2 linked regions of the Homo sapiens genome follow. Each later gene encodes a partner of the first gene's protein in a complex. Each region holds a gene or a part of one and is shown on either strand. Other genes may lie near its edges. The genes, in order: KAT5 and BRD8.

The links.
Region 2: KAT5 (region 1) and BRD8 share a complex: the UniProt entries of both Homo sapiens proteins name them as parts of the SWR1-like complex.

The regions. Positions count from the first base shown.
Region 1 is NC_000011.10:65,715,252-65,717,778, forward strand, and holds part of KAT5 (histone acetyltransferase KAT5), read left to right. Parts: intron 1-1,415; coding exon 1,416-1,556; intron 1,557-1,637; coding exon 1,638-1,731; coding exon of another isoform or gene 1,732-1,735; intron 1,736-2,421; exon of another isoform or gene 2,422-2,527. UniProt on the Homo sapiens protein: Catalytic subunit of the NuA4 histone acetyltransferase complex, a multiprotein complex involved in transcriptional activation of select genes principally by acetylation of nucleosomal histones H2A and H4.
Region 2 is NC_000005.10:138,161,398-138,165,416, reverse strand, and holds part of BRD8 (bromodomain-containing protein 8), read left to right. Parts: intron 1-250; coding exon 251-703; intron 704-1,003; coding exon 1,004-1,097; intron 1,098-1,283; coding exon 1,284-1,330; intron 1,331-2,072; coding exon 2,073-2,287; intron 2,288-3,270; coding exon 3,271-3,363; intron 3,364-3,552; coding exon 3,553-3,621; intron 3,622-4,019. UniProt on the Homo sapiens protein: May act as a coactivator during transcriptional activation by hormone-activated nuclear receptors (NR). Isoform 2 stimulates transcriptional activation by AR/DHTR, ESR1/NR3A1, RXRA/NR2B1 and THRB/ERBA2.

The sequences.
Region 1 (2,527 bases):
GCAGTGGTGTTCTGAAGAGTAGGCATGGATGCACAAAGGTGGTCTTTGTGAAAGGCAGAGATCATTCTGGTTGGGAGGCAGAAAAGGGAGGATGAGGGAAGGCTCGTACATGGGACAGAGCTTAGGTGATGAAGATGCTGTGTTAACCACCATTTTGTAATTATTAATGTGGACCTGGGCATCCAAGTGGCAGTACCCAGCAGCAGGCGGTTAAAAAGCAATTCCTGGGCTGGGCACGGTGGCTCACACCTGTAATCCCAGCACTTTGGGAGGCTGAGGCGGGCGGATCACAAGGTCAGGAGATCGAGACCATCCTGGCTAACACGGTTAAACCCTGTCTCTACTAAAAAGTACAAAAAATTAGCTGGGCGTGGTGGCGGGTGCCTGTAATCCCAGCTACTCGGGAGGCTGAGGCAGGAGAATGGCGTGAACCCAGGAGGCAGAGTTTGCAGTGAGCCGAGATTGCACCACTGCATTCCAGCCTGGGAGACAGCAAGACTTCGTGTAAAAAAAATAAATAAATAAAAAGCAATTTCTGGCTGGGCACAGTGGCTCATACCTGTAACCCCAGCACTTTGGGAGGCCAAGGTGGGCCAATCACTTGAGCCCAGAATTTCGAGACCAGCCTGGGCAACATGGAGAAACCCCCAGGTACTCGGGAGGCTGAGTTGGGAGAATCACCTGAGCCTGGGAAGTCAAGGCTGCAGTGACCCACGATTGCATGATTGCACCACTGCACTCCAGCCTGGGTGACAGGAGTGAGACCCTGTGTCAAAAAAAAAAAAAAAAAACCCACAATGTCTGAAATGCAGGAGAAATCGTGTGCAGAAGTAAAGCAGCAGGATTCATAATTTTGCTGGGGTAAACCCTAAGGCAGTTATTTTGTTAAATTCCAGAATTCCTTAACTCTGTTGTAGAGTAGCAGATCAGTTCCCAGGAGGTGTGACTGTGGATGTAGAATGTTAGGTTTTTTAACAGCTAGACTCCCAAGACTGTTAGATAGGGAGTCAGTGGTCAGAGTCTCACTTTGGACACATTAGTTTGAGGAGCCGTGGTCAGAGTCTCACTTTGGACACATTAGTTCGTTGGCTGCTGTTAAAAAACATTAAAAGGCAGTGGTCTCTCCTGGTCAGGCTTAGAATGGAGGTGTGCGGAGCAAGGCGGGAAACTTGCCTGACTGAGCAGGGAGGCACTCAGACACCATCACACATCTGGCACACAGGCTTTTCAACACTGAGGAGCAGCCCTGCCTAAGCTGCGGGCTGGTGGAGTGGGTCAGGCCCAGCCAGGGAAGAACACTCATCACCTAGCAGCCTGGGGCATAGCACGAACAGTGAAGCTCCTGGTTGACCCTGAACCACTGGCCAGGCTCAAGGCGGGATACCCAGAGTGGTGACAAGCCTTTTCTCTTGCAGAGTTATTCCCAGAACCTGTGTCTTTTGGCCAAGTGTTTCCTTGACCATAAGACACTGTACTATGACACAGACCCTTTCCTCTTCTACGTCATGACAGAGTATGACTGTAAGGGCTTCCACATCGTGGGCTACTTCTCCAAGGTCAGTGCCTGCCCAAGCTGTCCCTGTGCCCTGTCCTGAGCCAGATCCCTTCCCTGACACTCACCTGTCCCCCTTCTCCAGGAGAAAGAATCAACGGAAGACTACAATGTGGCCTGCATCCTAACCCTGCCTCCCTACCAGCGCCGGGGCTACGGCAAGCTGCTGATCGAGTTCAGTGAGTATGTGTGCTGCGGCCAGGGGGTAGTGGACCCACTATCGGTGCCTCACAGGCAGATGGGCCAGGCTACTGTGATTCTCAACCCTGGCTGTGCAGCCCAGCCTCTAGGGGAACCAGCCAGAAATAACAGTGGCACTCTCCCGGGGTTCTCTCCGTTCAGGCTGACTGCCCTGCTTATCTGGGGTAGGTTCTCAGCCCCCCAGTTTGCTCCTTGGCCAGGGTTCTAAGTGCCACTCAGCTTTCCCCAAATCTGACTTACGTGCTCCTGCCTGGAGCCATGGGCAGAAGGTTAGTGAGCCGCTGGTGCTGATGTATCTGGTAACGTGTGCCATGATACGAGTACTGGGGCAAGGACCAGTGGCTAATGTCCCCAGTTGTCCCCTGAGCCTTGCAGGCAGGTATCCAAAATGCTGTCAGCAGATAGACATAAGCATGTTGTCCCTCGCTCCTTGTGTCCAGTGAGGTCAGTCTCTTAAAGCCAGAAGGGACTCTGAACTTCATCACACATGGGCTCTTCAGTGCCCTCCCCAACCCTGAGGCCCCTTCTTCCCAGCCTCTTACTCCCCATCACCCCCCATTCTGTCTGTCTCACCACTCACTTGGAATAACCAAGCTCTGACCTGAGAAACAAGGAGGAAGTTCTAGCTGTTGACCTGGTGAAGACACAGAGGCTTTACCTGATCAAGGTTATGGTCCATTCGAGAAATTTTATTGGTTAAATGATGCCCAGATGGGGTCACATCCTCAGAACTTCTCAGCCTGGTAGCACAAGTGGATGCTTGAAGAAACTCAG
Region 2 (4,019 bases), on another chromosome or scaffold:
TAAACAACTCTCCTACTTCTGCCCATCTCCATCTTTGTAGCCCTTTGGTGCTAACATACTAGTCATCTCCTCAGGTCTACCCATGTTACTGGTTTGCACAGGACAGGTGCCTCTTCATTGTTTGCCTCCACTACATGGAAAAAATGGAGCGAAAAGCTGCAGATTCAAGCCATCACATTTGGTGCTAACAAAAATTGAAGGACTTGGGCTTCTTTCTGTGACCTCAATAGTCTTGTGTTTTGTGGGACAGGTAGATGATCATCCTGAAGTGCTGGATGTGGCAGCAGTGGAAGCAGCACTGTCATTTTGTGAAGAAAATGATGATCCTCAGTCCCTGCCTGGCCCCTGGGAGCATCCTATCCAGCAGGAGCGGGACAAGCCAGTACCTCTCCCTGCACCAGAAATGACGGTCAAGCAAGAGAGACTGGACTTTGAGGAAACGGAAAACAAGGGAATACATGAACTGGTGGACATCAGGGAGCCCAGTGCAGAGATCAAGGTGGAACCTGCAGAACCAGAGCCAGTCATTTCAGGAGCCGAAATAGTAGCTGGAGTTGTTCCAGCCACAAGTATGGAGCCACCAGAACTCAGGAGTCAGGACTTAGATGAGGAACTGGGAAGTACTGCAGCTGGAGAGATTGTTGAAGCAGATGTTGCCATTGGGAAAGGCGATGAGACTCCACTTACAAATGTGAAGACAGAGGTACTTAAGAAAGATCGGGGCTGGGGAGATGGAGGTTTATACCTTAGATAAGAAGTGACAGCTTAGGCTTTTTGGTTTTCCAGTTGCATTCCTGAGTTCTGACATGTTTGATGTGTCCAAAGCCCATAGGCTGTGATTAGTGTTATATATACTTATTCCTGTTAAGGTGACCATTGGAGTCACATTACATGAGTAGGACTTAGAATTTCTTCTATGGTCTCATTATCACTGAAGAATAAAGTTGTGTGAGCTATAGCGATTTATCAGTACTTAGGGTGTTTTTTCTTTTCTGGTTTTCAGGCATCCCCTGAAAGCATGTTGTCTCCATCACATGGCTCAAATCCCATTGAAGATCCTTTAGAGGCAGAGACTCAGCACAAGTTTGAAATGTCAGGTAAATAAAGTCCTCTTTCACTGACTTGAAATCATTTGCTTTGGCTTCTGAGGGGTTGTGGGTTGTGGGCAAGTAGAGGAGGTAGAACAGGTCAGCATGTAAAGGAGAGCTGCAGGGGATTATGGTCCATAGGAAGGGGAAGGCTAAGGTGGAAAAATCTTCAGGTAGTCTTTCTCTCCTCTGCAGACTCATTGAAAGAAGAATCAGGGACTATTTTTGGAAGCCAGATAAAGGTATTTCAGACTTTTCTTTATTCCTCTTGCCATGTGATTAGATTTCCCTATAGCACTACTTTTTAATGAATTTCAGTAAAGTCACATCTTTATTCTCTGATAAGAGACTGGTATGGAGTTGCATGGGGAAAAGCTGCAGTAGACAGGCATAATGGGAGTACTATAGCAACAGGTGCCTCCCATATGAAACAGCATGTGAATATCACACAGTCCTTAAGAAGGCTTGATACACTTAGAGTGATTTGTAGTGAATAAGGATACCTGAGCCAAGGAGAACATACAGGAATCAAGTTTATTAATTAGACTATCCAAAGAGAATCATCCAGAGTTTTCTTTTTAGAATTATTAAAGCAGCAGTAACAGAGGCTTAAAGAATGTGATGTGAGCTTGCTCCATCAAATGAGACACAAAATAAAAATTATTTTTGATAACTTTGTACCCAGGGTCAGAGTTACTCTCGAGCAAGGGGAAAGAAGGAACGCCTCTTAGCTTAGTCTTAAGTAAGTAGCTTTTTTTTTTCTTTCTTTTTAAAAGATCCTGGGTATTATTCTTTGTCCAGGTTCTAAATTACTTAACGCAGTGTCTGTAAGTAGATGGTAGTATAAGTGATAGACAGCTGAGTCAGGAAACAGCGTGAGGTCATTTCTAGAACTAATTCTAACCCAAAAGACAGATCATGTTTAATGATGCTTTGCTGGATAGCTTTGCTTGCATTTGTTAACTGGAGCATACTGTATCTAAGGATGCCCCAGGTGAGGATGAGGAGGAAGATGGTGTCAGTGAAGCGGCCAGCCTAGAGGAGCCTAAGGAAGAGGATCAAGGAGAAGGCTACTTGTCAGAAATGGATAATGAACCTCCTGTGAGCGAGAGTGATGATGGCTTCAGCATACACAATGCTACACTGCAGTCACACACACTGGCAGACTCCATCCCCAGCAGCCCTGCTTCTTCACAGTTGTGAGTATCTGAGATTCTTTCTTTGAGGCCAAGGCAGTGAAGGTGAGGAGAGGATCTTTTCCTTCCTTCCTTCCTTCCTGTCTTTTCTCTTTTCTTTTCTTTTCCCTTTCCTTTCCTTTCCTTTCCTTCTCTTTTTTCTTGTTCTCACTCACCCATGCTGGAGGGCAGTGGTGCGATCTCAGCTCACTGCAACCTCCACTTCTCAGGCCCAAGCAATCCTTCCACCTCAGCCTCCTTAGTAGCTGGGACTACCAGCCTGTGCCACCACACCCTGCTAATTAAAAAAAATTTTTTTAGTAGAAACCAAGTTTTGCTACATTGCCCAGGCTGGTCTCAAACTCCTGAGCTCAAGCGTTCCACCTGCCTCGGCCTCCCAAAGTGCTGAGATTACAGGCGTGAGACACCATGCCTGGCCTTTTTCTTTATTTTTAAATTTTTATTTTAAAAAAATTTTTTTAAGGGACAGGATCTATGTGGTCCAGTCTGGTCTTGAACTCCTGACCTCAAGCAGTCTTCTTGCCTTGACCTCCCAAAGCAGTAGAATTAGAGGCATGAGCCACCATGCCTGGCCTGATCTTTTCTTTAGTGTTTCCCTTTTTTGACCTGGAATAAACAGCTGACAAGAAATAATTAGGGCTGGGCATAGTGGCTCACACCTGTAATCCCAGCACTTTGGGAGGCTAAGGCAGGAGGATCGCTGGAACCCAGGAGTTCGAGACCAGCCTGGGCAACACAGTGAGACCCTATCTCTACAAAAAAATTAAAAAATTAGCTGGGCATGGTGGTATGCACCTATAGTCCCAGCTACTTGGGAGGCTGAGGTGAGAGGATTGAGTCTGGGAGGTTGAGGGTGCAATGAACATGATCATGCCACTGCACTCCAGCCTGGGGGACAGAGTGAGACCCTGTCTCAAAAAGAAAAGAGAATTATAATTTTTATTTTTTAACTTGTGCCTAGTGGAATTGCTGTATCTCTGTTTCAGCTCTGTCTGTAGTGAGGATCAGGAAGCTATTCAGGCACAGAAAATTTGGAAGAAAGCCATCATGCTTGTATGGAGAGCTGCAGCTAATCATAGGTGAGTGGGCTTTACCAGTCAGTAGGTTCATTTTCTCCTACTCTTCATTGTTGGTGACTGGAAAAAAGTCTGAGTAGGCTTCTGTGGAACTGCTGGTATTAGTTCTTACTACCTTTAGTTACTTAGAGTAAGTTCCCTCCCTGCACTTCTGGAGAATGTCAGTAATTGCACCTTATTCCTTTTGGACAGGTATGCCAATGTCTTCCTGCAGCCTGTTACAGATGACATAGCACCTGGCTACCACAGCATTGTGCAGAGGTGAGCCATGGTCCACCCAGCATGGTAACTTGCCTGAATTATAAATTGTCCAGTCTTAGTGAAGTTTTGCTTTCGATAGAAAGTTTAAAGCAAGTAAGTTTATGGTTTTGCTATAAGGGGCACTGAGTGCTAAACTGATAATTCCAGTGGCTAGATCACCACTGATAGTCTAAAAGAATAAATCTCCACCAGGAGCGGTGGCTCACGCCTGTAATCTTTGGGGGTGCTGAGGTGGGTGAATCACTTGAGCCCAGGAATTCAAGACTAGCCTGGGCAACATGGCGAAACCCCCTCTCTACAGAAAATACAAGACTTAGCCAGGTGTGGTGTCGCGCATTTGTAGTCCCAACTACCTGGGAGGCTGAGGTGGGAAGGATTGCTTGAGCCTGGAAGTTCGA